4 linked regions of the Homo sapiens genome follow. The protein of the gene in region 4 interacts with the protein of the main gene of each other region in a pairwise test. Each region holds a gene or a part of one and is shown on either strand. Other genes may lie near its edges. The genes, in order: UBE2J1, SLC10A6, SCN3B and DERL1.

The links.
Region 1: the proteins of DERL1 (region 4) and UBE2J1 interact in binary tests that used the Homo sapiens proteins (3 or more experiments, as listed by UniProt).
Region 2: the proteins of DERL1 (region 4) and SLC10A6 interact in binary tests that used the Homo sapiens proteins (3 or more experiments, as listed by UniProt).
Region 3: the proteins of DERL1 (region 4) and SCN3B interact in binary tests that used the Homo sapiens proteins (3 or more experiments, as listed by UniProt).

What each region holds. Positions count from the first base shown.
Region 1 is NC_000006.12:89,326,113-89,328,750, forward strand, and holds the end of UBE2J1 (ubiquitin-conjugating enzyme E2 J1), read right to left. Parts: 3' UTR 513-2,638; downstream 1-512. UniProt on the Homo sapiens protein: Catalyzes the covalent attachment of ubiquitin to other proteins. Functions in the selective degradation of misfolded membrane proteins from the endoplasmic reticulum (ERAD) and is essential for cells to recover from ER stress.
Region 2 is NC_000004.12:86,832,345-86,839,384, forward strand, and holds part of SLC10A6 (sodium-dependent organic anion transporter), read right to left. Parts: intron 1,081-7,040; coding exon 962-1,080; intron 1-961. UniProt on the Homo sapiens protein: Transports sulfoconjugated steroid hormones from the extracellular compartment into the cytosol in a sodium-dependent manner without hydrolysis.
Region 3 is NC_000011.10:123,637,598-123,644,637, forward strand, and holds part of SCN3B (sodium channel regulatory subunit beta-3 precursor), read right to left. Parts: intron 5,075-7,040; coding exon 4,849-5,074; intron 3,878-4,848; exon of another isoform or gene 3,370-3,877; intron 1,024-3,369; exon of another isoform or gene 942-1,023; intron 728-941; coding exon 589-727; intron 1-588. UniProt on the Homo sapiens protein: Regulatory subunit of multiple voltage-gated sodium (Nav) channels directly mediating the depolarization of excitable membranes.
Region 4 is NC_000008.11:123,039,279-123,046,249, reverse strand, and holds the start of DERL1 (derlin-1), read left to right. Parts: upstream 1-3,947; 5' UTR 3,948-4,127; coding exon 4,128-4,280; intron 4,281-6,971. UniProt on the Homo sapiens protein: Functional component of endoplasmic reticulum-associated degradation (ERAD) for misfolded lumenal proteins. Forms homotetramers which encircle a large channel traversing the endoplasmic reticulum (ER) membrane.

The sequences.
Region 1 (2,638 bases), on a different chromosome or scaffold from region 4:
AAGTTTCCAAGAATTTTATAGTTTTAACTCTTACATTTAGGCCTTTGATCCATTTTGAGTTAATTTTCTTATATGGTGTATGAGGTAGTGGATGGTATAACTTTATTTACTCATTTTTCTCAGGGCAGGGTATAGCCCCAGTGGATCGAGGTCAGAGCTGTGGGAAGGCCCCAAAGGCATTTGCTGAGGTCTGATTATGCCAGACACCTAGGTGGGACTCTAGTCATGCACAGCCTTGTGCTTTATGTTAAGGGTTTCACCCTATCTAAGAGCAACAGGAGAGAAGAGATCAGGTCTGTATATTGAAAACTCTGGCTGCAATGTAAGGAATGGGGTGAGACTAGAGACCTGTTAGGAGGTTACTGCACCAATTTGGAGGAGTTAATAGCTAAATAGGATATAGTGCCTAGTTAGGGAAGTGGAAAGATGAGAGAGAAATATTCTAGGAGGTAGAATGGATGAGAGACAAGACTGGATGATGTAAAGAATACAACCTTTGGTCAAAAACAAGGTATGAGTAAAGTCACTGGTTTTATTGAGCAGCTCAAACTAGTTCTGAAGGCAACTGTTCAGAAGGCGTTCCCAACAGCTTTTGAGCAATGCACAGCCTCCCATAAAACCTTAAAAAGTACATCTGTTAATGTGCACATTAGTCTTTGTTAGTCACGTTCACTAAATGCATTAACCTTACATATACTTCCAATTAAAAAAACACATAGGCTTTTCAGTATTTTGGCCTAGATTTTTGTTCAAATGAGTCCAAATGTGTGAGTGAGGTTTACCTGTTTTCTGATTCTGATCTATAAAAATGGGTGGTCTCAAAAGACCAGAAAGTTTATTCATAGCCAAAAATGACAAAAAGAGTTCTTATTCTCCCAAAATAGGAAATTTTGTATTCCTATAGTCAAAACAATAAACAATTTTTGAAATTAAAAAAGTTGAGAATCTTGAAATTCATTTTTTTCAGTAGAATAAAACAATAAGCAGCATGAAAACGTAAAGTGCTACATAAAAGCCCCACATTACATAAATTTTGAAAAGTTTATTGGCTTAAACAGTTACAGGTGAAACAGATTACGTATTTTTTTTTCAAGCATGCTATTTTAATTACCTTGATATCTCATCATGTGCTATGTTGGTCAAATAAAATGTCATGAGTTATCTAGATCTGAGGATTAAAGAGGAGTCCTCAGCCTTTACTTGCCAGAATATACATCCAGTTTTAGCTGTATGCTGGAATTAAGGAGTTAAAGTAGGGCTTTAAAGATAATAGTTTTCTGAAGAGGCCTTTCAGTGGGGCTTGGACAAAAAGGGCCCCAAAGACCAATTTTGCTCATTAACCTCACACTGGGGATCAGATTGACAACTTAAGGATTTTTAGGGAGCATATGTGAGATCAAAGGGAAGAAGAAAATGGTGCCCCTTTCAGATGGTGCTTCAGGTGCTAAAAAATATCCCAACACAAACAAGCAGGTGGCTAGCTGACAGGTGGGGGAAGAGATGCAAGTCAGATAGCAAAGGATCTGCACAGTGCAAAATCTTCTTGGCTTTTTATTTAACTTAGCAGTGAATGCAGCAGGATTGGCTTAAAGTATAGGTACACCCCATGGAAACATGCAATAAGATCACATCGATCCAGAGGCTGGCTCAAGTTTGACTGAGGGGAAACGGAGGGAAGGCTGTTCCTAGCACACAATCTCAGCAGAGGTTGAGGTGGTGGGGATTTCTTTCTTCTCATATGACGCTACCGTCGGTGACTTCTTACTAGGAGACCACTGAGCACTGAATCAAGGTTTCTAATATGTTTCAAATCAAGATTTTAGAGTGTATTTTCTTATGGCAATAGAGTTATAAAATGGTAACCTATGATTTTCCTCATATAATGAGATCTTCATAAAGTCCTTGAGCTTTTTAGACTTTAACAAATTCAGCTACAGATATAAAAAATAATCTGTAAACACCTTTAAAATGCGAATTTATTAAAGTTTAAGACAATTCTGTATTATATAATAGTGTACAATATGTTCTTATTTTAGATGTAGAAATAAAGGAAAACTGGCTCTCAGATGAAAACAGAAATTGTGTCTGACAGTTAATAGAACGAATGTCCCATAAACAGGAGTAAAAATTAAATTTTCCTTTAAGACGATTTTACAATTATTTCTCTTGTCCATAATTTCACTTAGTTAAAACCACATAAGGACTTTATGAATACCCTCCCCTATACTATTCAAGATATACATATGGGCTAACTTTCGTGGACCGATCTAGAACCTAAATACCACTTCCAACATTGTTTGACTTGTAAAAAAATTAACTTACAAATAACACTTTTGGAGCATAACCTATTTGAAAGCTTGGAACCACCTGTATTTAAAAATTAAATCTTCATTAACAACACCCTCAAGAGTGCCCTCAGTGCTGCGAACTGAACATGCTGAAGGCAATGTTTTTCTGTGATTATATGGTTTCACCAGCCATTATGATGATAATATTATCTACTAGAGTCTGTGGCGCTAGCTAGCACTAAGTTATATATTGATTTTTCCACTGAAAATTCTTTCTTGGGCTCTGACTAGGTGGACAATTCTAAGTAAAGGTTTTTCTAACTTCTATCACTGTTACTTGGGCCCTGAGG
Region 2 (7,040 bases), on a different chromosome or scaffold from region 4:
CTGTAATCCTAGCACTTTGGGAGGCCAAGGTGGGTGGACTGCCTGAGCTCAGGAGTTTGAGACCAGCCTGGGCAACACGGTGAAACCCTGTCTCTCCTAAAATACCAAAAAAATTAGCCGGGTGTGGTGGCCTGCACCTGTAGTACCAGCTACTCGGAAGGCTGAGGCAGGAGAAGGCAGAAGTTGCAGTGAGCCGAGATTGCACGACTGCACTCCAGCCTGAGTGACAGAGCAAAACTCTGTCTCAAAAAAAAAAAACAAAAAAACATAGTGCCTATCACTTTTTCAAAAACTGACCACACTAGAAAAGGCAGATCATTTCACCACATTTCTCTTCTAAGCTTGCTAAACCCACAGAGATCTTTAGGAAAATGGCAGACTTTCATGAGAAATAATATTCAGAAGAGGAGATAATGAAAGAGATATGGGTGAGACTGTGACATGTAGATGAGTTTTCATAATCAGTAAGAATTATTTACATTCAACCTCCAAGAAAAAGTCAAGGTTCGCAGGCAATGTGAAAGGTGAAGTCACAGGAAGGTCTAATTAGAGCCACTAGATCCAGTTAAACCTTGGAGTATAAAGAGTCCAATTGCTTTATAGTCTAATTACATAAGGGTTTGATTCCTGCTTTTTCAAAGTAAATTATCTGGCTTTCTTTTTTTTTCAAAAATGCACTCTTATAGGGATGAAAGTTTGCACTTTGTAGTCAGATTCCCGGGTTAGAACTCCAGTTCCGTACTTACCAGCTGCATAATCTTGATCAAGTTACTAAACCTCTTGAAGCCTGAAGACCTAGGAGACTGAACTGGTAACAGAATCTATACTGTAGGGTTCTTTAAGGGATTAAATTAAGTACTACCAAAAAAATCCCTGCATAAAGAGTTATATAATTAAGAACAGCTATTATTAGTATCATCACCATTACTGTTAGTCCTCCATTTCCCAGGCCCATACAGACCTATGTTCTGATAAGGAATGGTGAGATTCTGCTGAAGACTCCAGGACCAGGTGTAGAGATAAATGCAGAGTGGCATCATTCCCAGGGCGGCCACGGTGGAACAGGTTGTCATACTGATGCTGAAAGTAAAATTAATACAATGCTTAGGAGGGAGCATTGGACATGAAGAATTTAGTCTTTACCAAAAGCAACTCCTAGGACACAATTTCCTAGAGATTACATGGACTAAGCTCCTTGGAGCTCATTTCTCTCCCGTTGTTTAACAAACGATGGCTATATTTCTGGTCTACAAAGAGATTTCCAGTAGTTCTTGTCATCCATCAATTACCTCATATTTATTTTACTATCTACTTGCCTTAAAATTCTGCTAGGCACTATAGAATTATTTTCTTATCTAGTTCTTTTTTATTGAAGTATAATCCACAAGCCATAAAATTCATCATTTTAAATTATACAATTCAGCAGTTTTTAGTATAGTCACAACATTATGCAATAATAGCACCATTTCCAGGATAGTTTCATCACCCCAGAAAGAAACCCCATCCCCATTAGCAGTCACTCCCCAATCCCTCCTTCCCCTAGCCCTTAGCAAGCACAAATCTACTTTCCGTCTTTATAGGATTACCTGTTCTGGACATTTCATATCAACAGAATCATACATGCAGCCTTTTTTCTGTGTCTAGCTTCTTTCCCTTAGCATAACATTTTCGACGTTTGATAATAGTTTGGCTGTTTGTCCTCTCCAACTCTCATGTTGAAATTTGATTCCCAACGTTGGAGGCGGGGGCAAGTGGGAAATATTTCGGTCACAGGGGCAGATCCCTCATGAACAGGCTGGTGCCATTCTCGTGGGATTCACTGAGTTCTCACTCAGTTCTTATGAGCTCTAGTTGTTAAAAAGAGTCTGACACCTCCCTCCCCTCTCTTACCATGTGATGCCTGCTCCTCTTCCCCTTCCACCATGGGTGGGGTCTTCATGAGGCCCTCACCAGATGCAGATGCTGGCACTTTGCTTCTTGTGTACAGCCTGCAGACCCTCGAGCCAAATAAACCTGTTTTATTTAGAAATTACCTACCCTCAGGTATTCCTTCATGGCAACTCACATGGGCTAAGACAAGGTTTATCCATGTTTTAACATATATCACAGCTTCATTCTTTTTATGTCCTTATTCTATTAATATAGTATATCACATTGATTTTTCTGTATATTGAATCAACCTTGCATTTTGAAATAAATCATATTTGGTCATGGTGTATAATCCTTTATGTTGCTAGATTCAGTGTGATAGTATTTTTATTGAAAATTTTTGCATGTATATTCATAAGAACTATTGATCTGCAGTTTTCTTTTCTTGTGATATCTAGTTCTGGTACCAAGGGGATTGGAAGTGTATTAGGCTGTTTGCATGGCCATAAAGAAATACCTGAGGCTGGGTAATTTATAAAGGAGATTCATAGTTCTGCAGGCTGTACAAGCATGGTTCCAGCATGTGCTCCTGGTAAGGACCTCAGGAAGTTCGCAATCATGGTAGAAGGCAAAGGGGAAGGGGGAGCAGGTATCTCACATGGCCAGAGAGGGAGCAAGGGAGAGTGAGAAAGGGGAGGTCCCAGACTTTTAAACAACCAGATCTCATGTGAACTAACTAAGCAAGAACTCACTTATCACCAAGGAGATGGCATTAACCATTCATGAGAGATCCACCCCATGATCCAATAGCCTCCCACCAGGCCCCACCTCCAATACTGGAATCACATTTCAACATGAGATGTGGAGAGGACAAACACCCAAACCACATCAGCAAGTTAGAATGCCACAAAGCTGACTGAACGCCTGCCCAGTATGAAGTGTTAATAAATATCTGTCAGGAAGAAGTCACGCAAACACCACATGCCATAAGCTCCCCATTGGATAGGGCAGTGACCCCCACAGTCGCTGACCTGCAGACAGAGCAAGTTGGTTAGGGCAAGGGAAGGTACAGAACCACAGAGAAAGGGAACTGATGTGAGATGCTAGACTGAATTAAGAATTCTGTTCCAATCCTGATATCGTGTGATCCTATGATTAGAAACTGTGATTGGGCCAAGCATGGTGGCTCATGCCTGTAATCCCAGCACTTTGGGAGGCCAAGGCGGGCAGATGACCTGAGGTCAGAAGTTCGAGACCAGCCTGGCCAACATGGTGAAACCCTGTCTCTACTAACAATACAAAAATTAGCTGGGTGTGGTGGCAGGTGCCTGTAATCCCAGCTACTTGGTAGGCTAAGGCAGGAGAATCACTTGGACCCAGGAGGCGGAGGTTGCAGTGAGCCACGATCATGCCACTGCACTCCAGCCTGGGCAACAAAGTGAAACTCCATCTCAAAAAAAAAGAAAGACAGAAAGACGAAAAGACACAAGAAAAGAAGAAAAGAAAGAAAAGGAGAAGAAAGAAAGAAAGAAAGAGAGAGAGAGAGAGAAAGAAAAGAAAAGAAAAGGAAGGGACTGAGATTTGAGATTGAAGTAGAGTGATGAGTTAGAGTACAAAGTAAGATTTCTAGGCTTCAAAATGATGGTGTGATATACAAAAAAGCTGAGTCACTTAGCATCAGTTAGAGGGGTTGTGTTAAGTAAGGTGATAGTGGGACATCCAGTCTTTGGTGAACAAACCTGGAAAGATTTCTAAAGACAATCAGTCTGTTTATCTGTGTCATTACTGGGGTTGTCTCTGGCCACCTTGGAAAGTGAAATGTGGGTTTGTGAGCCGGACGAACCAAACCAAAACCAACAGCCATGCTACATAGCTTTACCAGGAAAACAACTGAGACCATCAGAAGGAAGTTGTGGTCTTTGTTCAACAAATCCAGAATGATTTCTACTGGAAAACTGGTTTGTTTATCTCTGTTATTATTGAGGTTAATTGTTTCTAAGTCAAAAGGCTAACACATTTTAAGCGCAATGGTTCTTAAGAACTTTTAAGTACATAATGTCTGTGACAGAGGGGGAAGAGTACTTGGTTTGAAGTCCTCAAAAACTGTGTATCGTGATTACTGCTATGGTCTGAATGTGTCCTCCAAAATTCATAGGTTGGAAATCAAATCCCTAAGACAACAGTATTGAGAGGTGGAGCTTTCTGGGAGGTGTTTAGGTCACAATGAATCCACCTTCATGAATGAATTAATGCTATTTTAAGAGGACTCCACCAAGGAAGTTTGTTCCTTTTTGCCCTTCTCTCTTCCACCACGTGAGGAGCAAGAAGGACCTCACCAGACAATAGATGCCAGCACCTTCATCTTAGACTTCCCAGCCTCCAGAATGTAAGGGAATAATTTCTCTTCTCTATACATTAACCAGTCTCAGGTATCCTGTACAGCAGCACAAAATGGACTAAGACAATTACTATATTGTTATTACATTATATGAACTAAGTTACTGCTTCACACATTTGTAATTTGTTGCAGATTTTTTGGGGTTTTGTTTTGTTTTGTTTTTTGAAATGGAGTCCCACTCTGTCGCCCAGGCTGGAGTGCAGTGGCGCAATCTCGGCTCACTGCAACCTCCACCTCCTGGGTTCAAGTGATTCTCCTGCCTCAGCCTCCTGAGTAGCTGGGATTACAGATGCCCACCACCACACCCAGGTAATTTTTGTATTTTTAGTAGAGATGGGATTTCACCATGTTGGCCAGGCTGTCTCGAACTCCTAACCTCAGGTGATCCACCCGCCTCGGCCTCCTAAAGTGCATGAGCCACCACGCCCGGCCATAATATACTGTGTTTTTGTATTTTCCATATATATTTTTGGTCTAAATTTATTTAGGGAAAAGCACTTAGTTACATTAACTGATAGTTAATATTTTATATATTGTAAAGCCTCCTTTGCTCTAAACCAGGGAGAGGAAGAAGAGCCCATGGTGCATGTAGAGAGAGAGAGAGAGAGAGAGAGAGAAAGAAAGAAAGAAAGAAAGAAAGAAAGAAAGAAAGAAAGAAAGAAAGAAAGAAAGAAAAAGAAAGGAAGGAAGGAAGGAAGGAAGGAAGGAAGGAAGGAAGGAAGGAAGGAAGGAAGGCAGGCAGGCAGGCTGGGATTTGAGAAGCAAGTAAGCAAAACATCATGTTGTACACCATAAATATACATAATTTAACTTGTCAATTAAAAATAAAATTTAAAAAAGAAGTCAGTGGAGAGCTGGGAGGTTATATTTCATGAAAGCTAAGAAAAGAAAGCTCCCAAATGAAGGCTAAAAGCCAATAAAAATCAGGGAGGATGAGAACTGAAGAAATATTCAACCTTACCCCACTTTTTGGTGCCTTCCATCCCAAATCTATTCTTTCCATCTCAGTCTCACTCCCAAATCGCAAGTTAAGGCTGTATTTTGTACCTACCTGAGTGATAGAACCAGTGAAAGAATGCATTAGTAAAATTAGGGGAAAGAAAATAAATGGAAAGAAGATACCCATCAGACCAGTCAAATATTTTATCTTTCAATTTGCTGGAAAAAATTACACAATCTGTTTAAGCATGTACAAACTGTTTATAGACACTGTGCTCATTCTGTGCTCAAGGCACAAATGACTGACAGACTGAGAAGCAGACTGCCCTCCTGCTCTACAAAGGAGAGGGAGGAGGCCCTTCATACGTCAAGGTCTTCTGCATAGACAGAAGGTCCTTCAGCACTTTATTGGGTCTACAAGTCATCTGTCACTCTTCCTCCTAATATATATCACCATTGCTTCCATCCAATTACCCTGTCTATAAAATAATACGTCTATGACTACTTTAACATTTTCTGCCAGAAGAATGTTTATACTCTTGACAAAGCAGCATCTGTTTTACTTCAATGATACTAAAAAGATTCCCTCTGTGCTCTCACTCATTGCTGGTAAAAATGGTACACCACAGAGGGTGTCTGGCAATATCTAGGAAAATTAGCGATCCTGCTTCTAGGATTCTGAATCCATGGCCCTCTGGACATGGTTTTATTGACATTGGCTCATGAATTATACACATGCTGTACCCTACACAAGTACTTATGTACCTGTCCATCTGTGCCAGAGTGAGTGGCATGACAGCCAGGTCCTATTTTCCTCTCCATCTCTAGGAGACCTGGCATAGTCTCACGCTGCAGCATATTGGAAGAGCTCGTTAAATACTTACTGAATAAATGTATGAATCAAAGAATGAACCAATGTCAACACACTGGTGCTATGGAAATATTCTCTCTGTCTCCGTCATATGTCACGTATCTCCAGGTGAACATTGGTAAAAATCTTACTGAAATGACCCCTTTATACTTAGTTCAAATGGTAAACAGCCCCATAGCAATCCAGAAAAAGAGACTTTCTATAAAATTATGCTCTCCCAGCAGGGCATGGTGGCTCATGCCTGTAATCCCAGCACTTTGGGAGGCCAAGGCGTGCAGATTACCTGAGGTCAGGAGTTCGAGACCAGCTTGGCCAACATGGTGAAACCCCATCTCTAAAAAAAATACAAAAATTAGCCGGGCATGGTGGCACACGCCTGTAATCCCAGCTACTCGGGAGGCTGAGGCAGGAGAATTGCTTGAGCCTGGGAGATGGAGGTTGCAGTGAGCCGAGATCATGCCATTGCACTCCAGCCTGGGTGACAGTGTCTCAAAAAAAAAAAAAAAAAAAAAAAATTATGCTCTTCCCAGACAAAAGCAAGTAAAATTTTAAGAAGCAAATATTTAGCTGATTGGTGCTCCTTTCAGAAATCCAAACTTAGATAACTTGCAAGTATTTGTGTACATCCTTCTACTCTTTTATTTTTCTTTTAAGCAGTCCATTTATTTCATGATTGTTTGTTAAATCAATAGGATTTTTTTCTTTCATTATTTTTTCTTTTTAAAGGAATCAGACCAGGTGCAGTGCCTCATGCCTGTAATTCCAGCAATTTGGGAGGCTGAATTGGGAGGATTGCTTAAGACCAGGAGTTTAACAACAGCCTGAGCAACATAGAGAGACCCTGGTCTCTACAAAAAAAAAAAAAAAAAAAGTACAAAAATTAGCTGAATGTGGTGGTACACACCTGTAGTCCCAGCTACTCGGGAGGCTGAGGCAGGAGGATGGCTTGAGCTCAGGAGTTTG
Region 3 (7,040 bases), on a different chromosome or scaffold from region 4:
AGCTCACTGCAACCTCCGCCTCCCAGGTTCAAGGGATTCTCCTGCCTCAGCCTCCCGAGTAGCTGGGATTACAGGTATGTGCCACCATGCCCAGCTAATTTTTTATACTTTTAGTAGAGACGGGATTTCACCATGTTGGTCAGACTGGTCTTGAACTCCTGACCTCAGGTGATCCTCCCGCCTCAGCCTCCCAAAGTGCTGAGATTACAGGCGTGACAGCCATCATGCCCAGCCATAATAATATTACTTTAACGGGTTGTGGTAGCAGCTGATGGTCTTTGCCTTAGTGGTTAAGTGTGCTGGCCAAGAATCAACAGGCCTGAATTCAAACATCACTTTGTTTCCTAAGTGATGTTTGAATTAAGCAAATGTTTAATTTTTCGTAATGAATTAAGAGTTTGCCTTAAGCCAACTCTCCGAAATTCAGTGTTCTCATCTGTAAAATGGGTATAATAATGGTGCCTATCTCTTAAGCAGTGATCATGAAGAGGGTGGAGGATGAATGTAAACTGCTTAGCACCTCACCTGTGAGAGCAAGCATTCTGAAGGTGCTAGCTTTCATTATTACTTTGGCATCTCTGGACTTACGCGTTTTCTTGGGCTGCCTCTTCGGCTTTTGAGACCTTTCTGTAGCAATATATCATCTCGATGAGCAGCCACAAGGTGAGGAAGACCAGAAGGATGTACATCATGATTTCTGAGACCACAGAGGTGAAGTCCTCTCCAGCTGAAAGAAAGAGAATGAGGTTCAGAATATGCAAATCCAGCAAACCTAGAGCCGTCATTGGAGCCATATTTTTAAGTACAGCTTAAATAAAGACTGAGTAAAGAAACTCAAGAAGATGTCAAAGGTATTCCAAATCCTGACTCTCCCGCCCATTGGCTTTCTCACTGACTGTCATCAGCTGCTCAGGAGCCAGGGAAGAGGGAGTGGGATGCCTGGAAGAAGTAGCCGAGCAGTGGAAGGAATCCTGGCCTCAAAGTGAGATATCTAGAGCTGGCTGTCCATTTTGCTATTTACAGGTGTGTAAACAACCATTTCCCTTACTTGAGACTCAGTTTCTTAATTTGTAGGTTGAGGATAATAACACCAGTCAGGGGTTTGTGAATATTACATTATCTAATGTATTTCAGAACATCTTGTGAGATTAAAAGTCTACACAGATGTAAGGAACATGCCTTATTTCAACTGCCTCTGTCTTTTGAGCTGCCGGTGGTGGAGGGTGGTATTCCTGGGGAGAGAGCGTTGGAAAACTCATTCAGGGCCAACAAAGACAGCCTCCATGAGATATGCGCATGTTCTCTACAAGTCTGGGTTAGAAACAAGACCTTCCAGGTCATCCAAAACCAAACATAAATATTGGAGGATTTAGTGTATCAACCGCATTGTCCCCAGGGCTGTACTTTTGAAACACAGTTAGGATCCTGCCATTTCCCTGCTGAAAACTCTTCAATGCTCCACACTCCCCTTAGGATGAAGCCCCAACTCTGTTCACGTGACATGCAAGGGCCTTCACAATCCGGGCTTTCTCACCTCATTTCCATTTGGTTGGCCAGAAAAACTTCTGCTACACACTGTGGTATGTTAGAATCTGTGAACTTTTCTTCCTCTTCCCTCTTCCTGAATTGTGTCTTTCACCCACGGCTAGTTCTGTGCTAATATCCTCTCCTGCTTTGCAGTCTCGCAGTAGTTCTAGATTCCTGTGAGGTCCCCTCCTTTGTGAAACCATCCCCAACTTCTCATGCGGAGCTATTCACAACCTTCTCCGTGCACTTTTCTTTTCTCTTTTTTTTTTGAGATGGAGCTTTGCTCTTGTTGCCCAGGTTGCAGTGCAGTGGCATGATCTCGGCTCACTGCAATCTCCGCCTCCCAGGTTCAAGCGATTCTCCTGCCTCAGTCTCCCAAGTAGCTGACATTACAGGCACCCACCACCATGCCCAGCTAATTTTTTATACTTTTAGTAGAGACGGAGTTTCACCATGTTGGCCAGGCTGGTCTCGAACTCCTCACCTCAGGTGATCCTCCTGCCCTGGCCTCCCAACGTGCTGGGATTACAGGCGTGAGCCACCGCGTCTGGCCTCCATGCACTTTTCTCATCCATCTGTTATAAGAGTTGTATTGTGCTTATCTTTCTTTTCTGTGGACTGTGTGCTTATTGAGAACATATTTATTTCTGGATTATCTGCCTGCTGTATAAATCTTAGAATATTTAAAGTGCTCAATAAGTACTTATTGAATGAGTGAAAATAAATATTATCTTATTTGTTTCATGATCAACAAAAAGGACCATTAAAACATACTACATGGCAGATATCCTGATATATCTACTCCTTGCTAGTGGGAGAAATGTTGTAGCCACCTCTCCCCTTGCCAGCTCTCAACAGCAAGTCAGATTTATGATCTGCAGTTATCCATTGGATCTAAGTCATCCCCAAGTCCTTGGTTGTTAAGAGCACAGCACAGCCTGCCATAACTTTCAGCCCAGAGAGCAGTCCGAAGGCTCCAGGATCACCCAGGTTTCCAACTGGAGCTAGAGGTCATAGATGCAGCGTGAGGCACATGAGAATGCCGTACAGCTCAAACATCTCACCGCCTTGCTACCACCTCGTGCATTATTTATGATTTGTTTGGCTTAAAGCATGCTCTCTCTTTCAAAATGCAGTAGCCCACAAATGGCAATACAGGAAGCTGTCCTCAGTATTTTTAGTTACCTCTAGGTGAAGAGGCCTCAGGTTTCTGCCTTAGGGCCAGGAGGTGACAGCCAAAGCCAGAATAAACCCAACTTGAACAAAGAGAACCAGGGAGACCTTGTGGGACCACAGGAATGGAGGAGATGTGGGGTTGATGGGCAGGTGTCATGGTGGGGTGGGTGCGTAGCTCTGAGCAAGATGAGGGCAGGGAGTATCTGATGTCACAGAGGCAAAAAAGAAAAAGTGGCAGGGGGTTGGGGTGGTGGGGGTGGGGAAAGAAACAGTGGAAAGCAAGCCCTCCAGACAGGCGAACAATCTGGATTTTCACCCTGCTTCCAGCGCGAATTTGCTGCACGTCCCTGAGCAAGCCCCTTGCTCTTGCAGAGAACTCTGTTCTCCCAGCCACAAAAAGAGGGGCACCAGAGCTACACCCTCCAATCACCTGGGGAGTCATCAACTTGCATATGACCTCACTCACCCCTGCCGATCTCACACCTGCAAGGGTGCTGCAGAGGTGTCTACATCTGGAGGACGCCAATGTGGGCGATTCTGATGTCTGCCCTTTATCCAGAGGCCCTGGATTAAATAAATGATATCCACGCTTCCTTCACACCCGACCATCCACGAGGCTCTGTGGCTCTGATAATAAACTTGTTTTTCCTTCTGTTTTTACCCGAGGCTTGCTCTGGTACCTGGCAGACGAACTAGCTCAGCCTTGCCACACTTCCCACCAGCTATGCACGAGGGTGTCTGGAGGCAAAAGCCCGAGAGAGCAGAGGTGGAGACGGCTGAGCACTGTGCTAAGGTCTGGCGGGCACCAACCAAAAGTTCCAGATGGTGACCAGGAGAGGGCGCCAGGGCCCCACCCCCCAGAGGAAAGGCGTGTAACAAACGGGGGATAAAGGAACTTCAGAACAGGGGAGTACCTCAGAGAGCCCCCCGCCAACCCCTTCATTTCACACCAGAGGAGCGGGGCTCCGAGCAGGGAAGTGACTCATCAGGTCTGGATTCAGGAGCCCTGAGAGTCCCTCTGCACTTTCAGAATTGACCTACCTTCCATTTTAGTCATATCGTCTGATCCGTTATGTCTCTTTCTCCTTTGTTCATTCACTCTGAGGACTGAATCTCCGCTTCATTATTTTTATCACAACGACATGATAAAAAATGAATAAACCTGTGGCCTGGAGGTTGGGATTCCTGGATCCTTTTTTCTAGGAAGAGCCCTGTCTTTAACTTGATCTTTTCCTTCATGCCCCACACTTTGGCCTGCTCACTAGCAGTGATAATGCTGGAGATAGACTGAGAAAGGCTGGAACTCCCCCCTCAGGATGCAGGACTCCGGTTGCAACAGAAACACCTGAGTTAGGCTGCTGAAAGGCCTTCCCACTCACGAACACGGAACTAGCTGTAGGAGTCCAAAGATTTTAAACAAGACTAGAGAGCTATCAACCTGTCCCCTTCTCCCAGCAGGGAATGAATTTATGTAATAAGAGATGCCACAGATGGGGAAGAGGTTGCACGTGTGATTACTGTGAAGAAAGACAAAAGAAAAAAAGATTGTCAAACTTTGGTTTAGAGAGAGGTTCTCAAGGTGTGGTCCCAGCAGCAGCACTGCCCGCCAGGCAGTGTGTCACGCAGTGCAAACTCTCAGGCTCCACCGACAAAAGCAGAAAGGCTGGCTTCCAAAAAGCCCTGCAGGAGATTTTGAGGTTTGCTAAAGTTTGAGAACCCCTGGCTTAGAGGCATGTATTGCTTACAGGTAGAAGGAGAGATGACTTCCGGGTAACCTCATGAGATTTCTCTGAGCCCACTGAGTCAGGGATTCAACATAGGCCAAAGAAGAAGGCCTAGCTGAATCAGTAGCTTTAGGCCTCATGGAGGCTAGCCTCTTTCTCTAAGGGACCAGGAAGAGCTCATTCTATCATCTCCAAGCCTTTCTGCTTTGAGGAAAGGCACAGAAAGACAAGCTGCTTAGGGAATTTACAGGAAGCTGGCCACCAGAAGAAGATGGGTCAATGGTGACATTTTTAGATGTCACCATTCCAAATACATGGGTTTTTGCACTCTTTAAGGGCCTCACTCGTGGAAAACTGCTGTCCTACCCTTCCCTGTCCACAGAGAGCAGGACGCCCTAGAGACCCTGTGCCTCAGCCTCACCCTCCTCGGTGACTCTTAGGGGGATCAGCCGCGTCGTCTTCACAAAGGGCCGATGCGCCTCAAACTCAAACTCCCGGGACACATTGCAGGTGTAGAGGCCAGAGTCGTTCAGAGTGACGTTGAGCACAGTGATGGACACGTCCTGCAGGTCCTTGCTGCCATTCCACTGCAGGCGCCCCTGAAAGGGGCTCTCCACCTCCTGGTGGCCATTCCGATACTCGTAAATCTGCAGATAGAGGAGCAGAAGAGGGTAGGGCCAGGAAAGGAGATGGCAGTGGGGGGAAGCCGAGTTAGGGACAGGGCAGAGAAAAGGAGCAGAATTGTGCATGGACAGGGAAGAGAGGGGACAATGCCACCGGGAGACCCAGAATGTGGGGGTGGGATGAAGAGGCACAGAGGAGGGTAGGGAAGGGAGCAAAGACAGGGAAGGACAGGCAGAGGCAGCAGGCATCAGGGCATGTGGACGTGGTGAGGACAGAGGCAGCCACGGGCGTGTAGGAAGAAGCTTGGCAGAAAAAAAGGGGTGGAAAGAGGGAGAACAAAGGCAGGCGGGAGAAGAGTATGGGAGCCCAGGAGACGGACATTGAGAGAAAGACAGGATTGTAAAAAGATAGAGAGAACAAGAGAGTAAGATGTGTCCCAGAGCCGCTGGCAAGAGAACAAGGTAGAGACAGCAAGACAGGCAGATTCATTAGTAATGAAGACATATGAAAGCCCTGGCTTTAAAACTGGACTCTCTGTGCTGGTACTCATCAGGGGCTGTAGGACAGTCTGGGCCAGGCCACAGGAAGGAGGCCCAGGATGCTGAAGCATGGCAGATGAGCAGAGAGCCATCACCAGAGAGGCACACGTCACATCTTTTGCTTTGGACTGAATTTTAACTAAAATATCATCTTTTAAATTTCTTTCCTCAACACTTCCACCCTCTGACATAACAGCCAAACTCATTTCTGACTCTAGCTTCTATGTGCCATTCTCTCTCTACAGCTGTGCTGGCTATTCTAGTCTCCACTAGCCACATGTAGCTACTTAAATTCAATTTCTTAGAAGTTAAATACAATGTAAAATTCAGTTCCTCAGTGGCACTGGCCACATTTCAATTATTCATAGCCACATGTGGCTGGTGGCCACTGTATCGCACAGCACAGATAGAGAAGGTTTCCACCATCACAAACATTTCTATGAGACAGCCTTGCTGTGGATTTCCATGGATGTTTTGCTGTTGCCGTTTTATTTTTCATTTTCTTCTTCTTCTGATCCACCTTTTCCTCACTTTGGGCAGGCCTGGAAGCAATGTGGGCAGCTATCACTGGTACATGACCAGGCCTGAAGGCCCTGGGGGCCTTTGCATCTGGCCAAGACATCCAGCCTCCTGCAGCTGGGGGCTAGCCTCAGTTGCAGCTTCATTGACGTGTCACTGTCACACCTGAGCCAGGCTCTGGGAAGTCTCCGCTGGTCCCAGTCTTAGTACCAGACGGTTGCAAATCTGCATCAGAATGGCACATAGAAGCTAGAGTTAGAAATGGGTTCGGCTTTAGGATAGTGAGAAAGAAGAGCAAGCTAAACCCAGTTTCGCCCTTCCATTGTCTCTGTTACAAATCTTTGTGGAGGAGAAACTTGCCCCCAGGAAGGCAAAGCAGTGCCGTAAAAAGGGCCTTGTATCTGCTGTTAGACCACCTGGCTCAAGTCAAAGCTGTCTTAGTTATTAACTTAACTTCTTTGAGCCTCAGTTTCCTCATTTCTGTGTCTATCTTTTCTCTAGCAAACATTTACCAGTGCTTACTATATTCCAGAAACTATTTTTAATGCATTAAAAATTATAGCTCATGAGTCCTGGTAACAGCCCTATAATTTGGCTATGCTTTATATCCCCACTTTAAAAATGAGGAAACCGAGGCACAGAAAGGATGACCAACATGTCCAAGGACACAGAGGTGATAATAAGTGTGAAGTCAAGAATCAAACCCAGGTGGCCTGGCTCCACAGTCAGTGAAGGAGTAAATAATGGTCATCTCCAAGGTGGTATTCAAAATATATGACAGCCGACCAGGCACGGTGGCTCACACCTGGAATCCCAGCACTTTGGGAGGCCGAGGTGGGTGGATCACCTGAGGTCAGGAGTTTGAGACCAGCCTGGCCAACATGGCAAAACTCTGTCTCTACTAAAAATACCAAAATTAGCTGGGCATGGT
Region 4 (6,971 bases):
CTCCACACTGCTTGCTCTTTCACCACCCTGAGACGTGTACTCAATATCTTCTGAGTTTGCAGTGAGGCCTTCCCTCACCAGCCCAAATCTCCTTTTCTTCTTTTTTCTTTTCCTATTCCTATTGCCAGTTTACCTACTGTACATGTTACTTTTTTTTTTTTTTTTTTTGAGAGGAGTTTCGCTCTTGTTGCCCAGGCTGGAGTGCAATGGCGCAATCTCAGCTCACTGCAAACTTCACCTCCCGAGTTCAAGTGATTCTCCTGCCTCAGCCTCCTGAGTAGCTGGGATTACAGGCGCATGCCACCATGCCCGGTTAATTTTTGTATTTTCAGTAGAGACGGGGTTTCCCCATGTTGGCCAGGCTGGTCTCGAACTCCTGACCTCAGGTGATCTGCCCACCTTGGCCTCCCAAAAGTGCTGGGATCACAGGCGTGAGCCACCGCGCCCAGCCTGTACATCTTACTTTTATCTCTTTCTGTTGTCTTTCTGCCTCCTCTAGAATGTAAGTTCCAAGAGGGTGGAGATAATTGTCAGTTTAGTTCACTGTTTAGAACTGTTATTGGTATATAACAAGCACTGGACAAAAGCATTGCTGAATAAATGAATGAAAGAGCACCACCTTTGGGCTGGGCGTGGTGGCTCATGCCTGTAGTCCCAGCGCTTTGGGAGGCCGAGGTGTGTGGATCACTTGAGGCCAGGGGTTTGGAACCAGCCTGGCCAACATAGCGAAACCCTGTCTCTACTAAAAATACAAAAAAGTAGCCAGGCATGGTGGTGGACACCTGTAATTCTGGCTACTTGGCAGGCTGAGGCAGGAGGATTGCTTGAACCCAGGAGGCGGAGTTTGCAGTGAGCCGAGATTGCGCCACTGGCACTCCAGCCTGGGTGACAGAAGCGAGAGGGAGACGCTGTCTCAAGAAAAAAAAAGAAAAAAAAAAGCACCACCTTTGGCTTTAAATAGATCTGGGTTGAAGTTTTATATATGCACCTGCCGGCAAGTGCCAAGTTACTTAACTTCTCTAAGGCTGTTTCTTCATTTGTAAATGGAAATAAAAGTACTTCATAGGGTTGAAGCATTGTTGTAAAGACTAATTAAAACCATGCCCATAAAGGGCATAGCTGAGTGCCAATCAAACTGTAGACACTCAGCAAATGTTAGATATTAGTAAATAAAAAAGTTAGCTATTAGTATAAAATGTATATGCATAAAGGTATTCATTATAGAACTATATATAGTATTTAAAAACAGGTATCAGAAATAGGAAAATGGTCAAAAGATTCTGCCACATCACTAGTAGAATATTAGTCATTAAAATGATTATTAAGACTTTGTAGAAAGAGAAAGCCTTTAAAAAATAATTATTTAAATAATATTATTAATAAATTAATAATAAATTTAATAAATATTCAATATTATTTAAAAATAATAAATATTTTTAAAAGCCAGTCAAATTTAGCAGTGGGGGGTTGTATACCAACTTTAGTGACACTAATGTTAATAAGTTCTGATAAATCACTACCATCGGACCAGCCAGAAAGCCTTTGAATGTAAAGTTACAAGAAAAGACCAGACATACCTGGCCTACCGTTGCTCTGATTTAAACTTCAGTGTTTCTAAAGGCCGAAGTTGAATTCCAGAGCATTCACTATGAATTCTAGAGCACAACTTAGAAATAAACACTGCCAGGCCGGGCGCGGTGGCTCACGCCTGTAATCCCAGCACTTTGTGAGGCCGAGGCGGGCAGATCATGAGGTCAGGAGATTGAGACCATCTTGGCTAACACGGTGAAACCCCGTCTCTACTAAAAATACAAAAAATTAGCCGGGCGTGCTGGCGGACGCCTGTAGTCTCAGCTACTCGGGAGGCTGTGGCAGCAGAATCGCTTGAACCCGGGAGGCGGAGCTTGCAGTGAGCCGAGATCCCGCCACTGCACTCCAGCCTGGGCGACAGAGCAAGACTCCGTCTCAAAAAAAAAAAAAAAAAAGAAATAAACACTGCCAGATATTGGGTGTACATTTTTCTTGTTCTTGTCTTTTCTCATGCACGTGTACTTTTAAGTTTATCAGAGAAACTTTCCTTAGCCCTCCACCTAAGCCAGATAACCCCTGTTTTCTTTCACTGTACCTTGGTTATGAGTAGTGGGTACAAAACAATGGTGGTGGTAGTAGAGGGAAATAAACAGAATAAACCTCAGGCAATATCGTCAAGTATTATCTGTTATTTATATAAATATCTAGCTTTTATATCAAAATTATCTTTTTGTAAGGCTGTATCAATTTATATTCCCACCAGCTGTGTTCTTCGTAGATTTGCTATCCATTGGTTCCCAAATGTTGTATACTCTCATTACACTGTGGAATATTTAATGCCTTTTTGTTATGAAAAAACTGTTTTTATTAATTAACATCAAGGATATGGTGCTGACAAATATTCTCTAAAATTATGGAATGTTGGAAACTCTGCTGTCTGACATCCTTTCCGTGTGAATGGAACATCCCATTCTTGTCCAGAGCATCTGAGCCATACAGGTCACTTTGACACAGGATTTTCAATACAGGTACAAAGCTTTAGATAGAGTTTTCAGACCCAACGTTTCACATTTGTCGTAATTTTGAGATTTCCAAGGAAAGAGCCTGCTTCCTACTCAGGTCTGATGTTAACCTGATGCTGCACACAGCTCTGCTTTGCTTCGAGTCTATCAAACACTGCTCCAGTTAATTCTTACCAAAAAATCCCCCCATTCCCATAACCCAATAATGACACTTCCGTTTGATGAGAGGCATTGAGGTTCCTCTGGAGTGCAGTCTCCCTTGCTGCAGCAAGTTAATAAATCTAACTTTGTTGACTACAGGTTTGTTCCTGGTGCTCTTTATTGGAAGACTTTAGCAATCTTAAACTGCTGGCCCCAAATCCCAAAACAACGGGAAACTCTACTCAGTATCTTTTCTTTTTTTCTTTTTTTTGAGATGGAGTCTGGCTCTTGTCCCCCAGGCTGGAGTGCAATGGTGCAATCTCGGCTCGCTGTAACCTCCACCTCCCGGGTTCAAGCGATTCTCCTGCCTCAGCCTCCCAAGTAGCTGGGACTACAGGCGCCCTCCACCATGCCCGGCTAATTTTTGTATTTTTAGTAGAGACGGGGTTTCATCATGTTGGCCAGGCTGGTCTCGAACTCCTGACCTCGTGATCCGCCCGCCTCGGCCTCCCAAAGTGCTGGGATTACAGGCGTGAGCCACCGCGCCTGGCCAGTATCTTTTCTTAAAGATTCCTTCTTATACAAGTTGAATTAGACAAGATGGATCATTTTGGCTTTTAGTTCCTCCAACATTCCAACCTAGTTAGAGCGGCTTTTCTCTGTGCATGGAAAATTCTTCCCCCAGATCTCTTGCCTGGCTGGCCCAGTTCATACCTAAGGTAGCCATCTGTCCTCACACTGCCGCACCCCCACCCCGTCACTCCACCTCATCATCTCATTTCATTTTCCTATTTTTCTAATCACTCTCTGAGATTATCTTACTTCATTATCTATTTGTTTATAAATTATCCCAATGAGGATGTTAAGATCAGGAGAGAGGGTACCACGACAGCGCTGACAGCCGCAGCTGCCCAGTGTCTAGAACTGTGCCCAACAAACACTTGTGGAATGAGTAAGCAGACGAGGAACTAGACACTTCGTTTGCCTTCGTCCCCTTTAAATACCCTCCAGGTGGACCCAGCCGCATTAAAACTCTGAGAACTAGGTGAATGGCATTTGGCCTCGCCACTGGCCGGAGCGTTTGCCGTTGATCCAGGCAACCACTGTTTTCCCACCAGTCGTGTAGTCGCTCTACCTGGCTCCGCCCCCCAGGACGCCGAGCCTCGGCCGGGCGGTAAAATCGGCGCTTACCCTTTAAGCGGCGGGACTTCTGGTCACGTCGTCCGCGGTCGCCGGAAGGGGAAGTTTCGCCTCAGAAGGCTGCCTCGCTGGTCCGAATTCGGTGGCGCCACGTCCGCCCGTCTCCGCCTTCTGCATCGCGGCTTCGGCGGCTTCCACCTAGACACCTAACAGTCGCGGAGCCGGCCGCGTCGTGAGGGGGTCGGCACGGGGAGTCGGGCGGTCTTGTGCATCTTGGCTACCTGTGGGTCGAAGATGTCGGACATCGGAGACTGGTTCAGGAGCATCCCGGCGATCACGCGCTATTGGTTCGCCGCCACCGTCGCCGTGCCCTTGGTCGGCAAACTCGGCCTCATCAGCCCGGCCTACCTCTTCCTCTGGCCCGAAGCCTTCCTTTATCGCTTTCAGGTACTTACCGGAGACGGGGGGCGTGGAGACTACAGGCCCCAGGAGGCCCAGCGGCGGCTAAGCGTAGGCTGGCATGTTGCGGGCGCGCGGTGCCTGCTGGGATTTGTAGTGGGTCCGGCGCCGGCGGTTTAGGGCGGGGTCCTTTGGGCCCGGGGAGGCTCTGGGATCTGGAGCGGGGTGCTGGATAGCTGGAGTTGTGGGCTGGCCTGGTGGGGAGGGGTTGACTTCACTGGTATAGTGAGATTGTGCTTCCCGCTCTTCGCACTCAGTGAAGGAAGCAGTGAGATTAGTCGTTGGTAGTTGTCAATCTGTTGGACGCTGGCGATTAGGTCCGCCTGGAGCATTGCCCTCTGACCTCCCTCTGTCACCCACGTGGGTGGCCTGTAGGTGTCAACTTCACCAACTTATAGCTGAGTTCCTTTCACGTTTATGGAGTTTTTTTGTTTTGGTTTTCCTATAGGAGTGATTTAAAGTCAGAGATACAAAGAACGAGTGTATTGTTCTGCATTTCCCTCTAGACCTAATTTAGTGTCCCCCACGTAGTAATAGAATGTACGAAGGAATGGGCAAAGAGTACATTTGTCCAGAAATGGAAGGCCTTGTTATTTTCTTAAGCATGAAGGAAACAGTCCAGAGTAACATTTCTGTCAAGAGAGTGCCAGTTTTCTGAAGGTTATCTGTATTCACCAATTTCTGATTTAAAACTTCAATCAGTGGCAGGTCAGATAGCAAGATCTGGCATTAATTTCAGCCCTTTACTTGGCCTATGGATAACATTTTCTTGTCTTTCCCTGTCTTCACTGGGTGTTACTTCTTGGTTTCCTTTGCTGGTTCCTTATCTTCCTGACTTTTAAATGTTAGGATGTGCCTTGGGAATCAGTTATAGGACCTTTTCTATAGACTCTCCCTAGCTTTAGGTGGTCTCATTCATTCAGCCTCAGGGCTTTACATACTTTCTATAAACTGGAGATTCTGAAATATAAATATAAATATCTTCAGTCCAGATCTGTCTCCCTATTTCCAGATTTGTGCATCCAGCAGTTACTTGAAATCACGACTTGGATGACTAAGAGTCATCTTCATCTTAACGTGTCCAAAACTGAATCCCCTTTCCCCCTTTGCCTTAGAAGTGAATAGCAACTCCGTTATTAGAGGAGCTGAAGTTAATTGTCGGAGTCATCTTTTATTTTTCTTGTTTTTCTCACACCCCACAATCTGTCAGCAAATCCTATTGACTCTACTTGAGACATATATCCAGAATACAATCCCTTTTCATTCTCCATTGCAAGCCATTATCACTGCAATCTGGTTCCTTTCCATCTTTTCTCTAGACAGCTAGAGTGATCCTTTTAAAACCTACATCAAGTCCTGTCTTTCCTCTGTCCAGAATCCTACCATGTCTTCTTAATGAGTAAAATCCAAGTCCTTTCAGTGGCCTGCAAGGCCCCTGCTGCTTCTCTGACCTCATCTCCTACTACTCTCCAACTTGTACCTTAGGCTCCACAATGAGATCCTTGCTGTTACTTCAGTGCTTATCTGGATCTCTCCTCAGGGCCTTTGCACATGTTGTTTCTCTGCCTGAGGAAGATAACCGTGGCTCAGTTGTTTACCTCCTAACCTTCTTCAGATCTCTGCCCAAATGCCGTCTTGTTGACAAGGCCTTCTCTGATGGCCGTACATAAAATAGCCCGTCCTTCACTCCACTCCCTTATCCCTTATCCTTCATTTTTCTTTCTTTCTTTCTTTTTTTTGGAGACGGAGTCTCGCTCTGTTGCCCAGGCTGGAGTGTATATGGCGCAATCTTGGTTCACTGCAACCTCTGTCTCCTGGGTTCAAGCAGTTCTCCTGTCTCAGCCTCCCAAGTAGCTGGAATTACAGGTGCACACCACCATGCCCAGCTAATTTTTGTATTTTAGTAGAGACGGGGTTTCGCCATGTTGGCCAGACTGGTCTTGAACTCCTGACCTCAGGTGATCCACCCGCCTCAGCCTCCCAAAGTGCTGGGATTAGAGGCGTGAGCCACTGAGCCTGGCCTTATCCTTCATTTTTCTTGCTACATATTACCCTTTGGTATTTATTAGTCTGCTTCCCCTCAGAGAATAAGGCTCCATGAGAGCCGTTCACCACTGTCCTTGTTACCTGGAATAGTGCCTGGGACGTAGTAGGTGCTTATATATTAACTGAGTTGTTGGAAGTAATTGGGCACTTGCTGTGTGCTGGGCACTGGGGTACAATAGTAAATAGGACTGAAAAGGTTTCAGAGCCTGTGAAGACATAGAGGCACGTGTTTTAAGGGGTGTAATATTTGATAGGGTGTTCCACCCAGAAAGGCCTCAGAGAAGACATTTGAAGAAATTGGAATACTGAGGAGCCAGCCAGCCAGCTTTGGGTAGATCTGGCTCTGGAGACAACCTTCCAGGAAGGACTAGTAAGTGAAAGGCTCAGAAGTAGGAGCTGGGAACAGGAAGAAGACTGGGTTGCCAGCTGGCACAGGGTCAGCTGTAGGGTGAGGATTAGTAGATGACAGCAGGGAGATAGCCAGGGCTGGGTGTAGTAAAGCTAAGATGGAAAGGTGGGTTAAAGCTAGATCATAGTTGAGCCTTGTAGGTCATGTTAAGAGGTTTGAACTTTATTTTGAGGGCACTATGAAGTCTTTGGAGCCTTGTGAACAAAGGACTGACAGATTGCCCC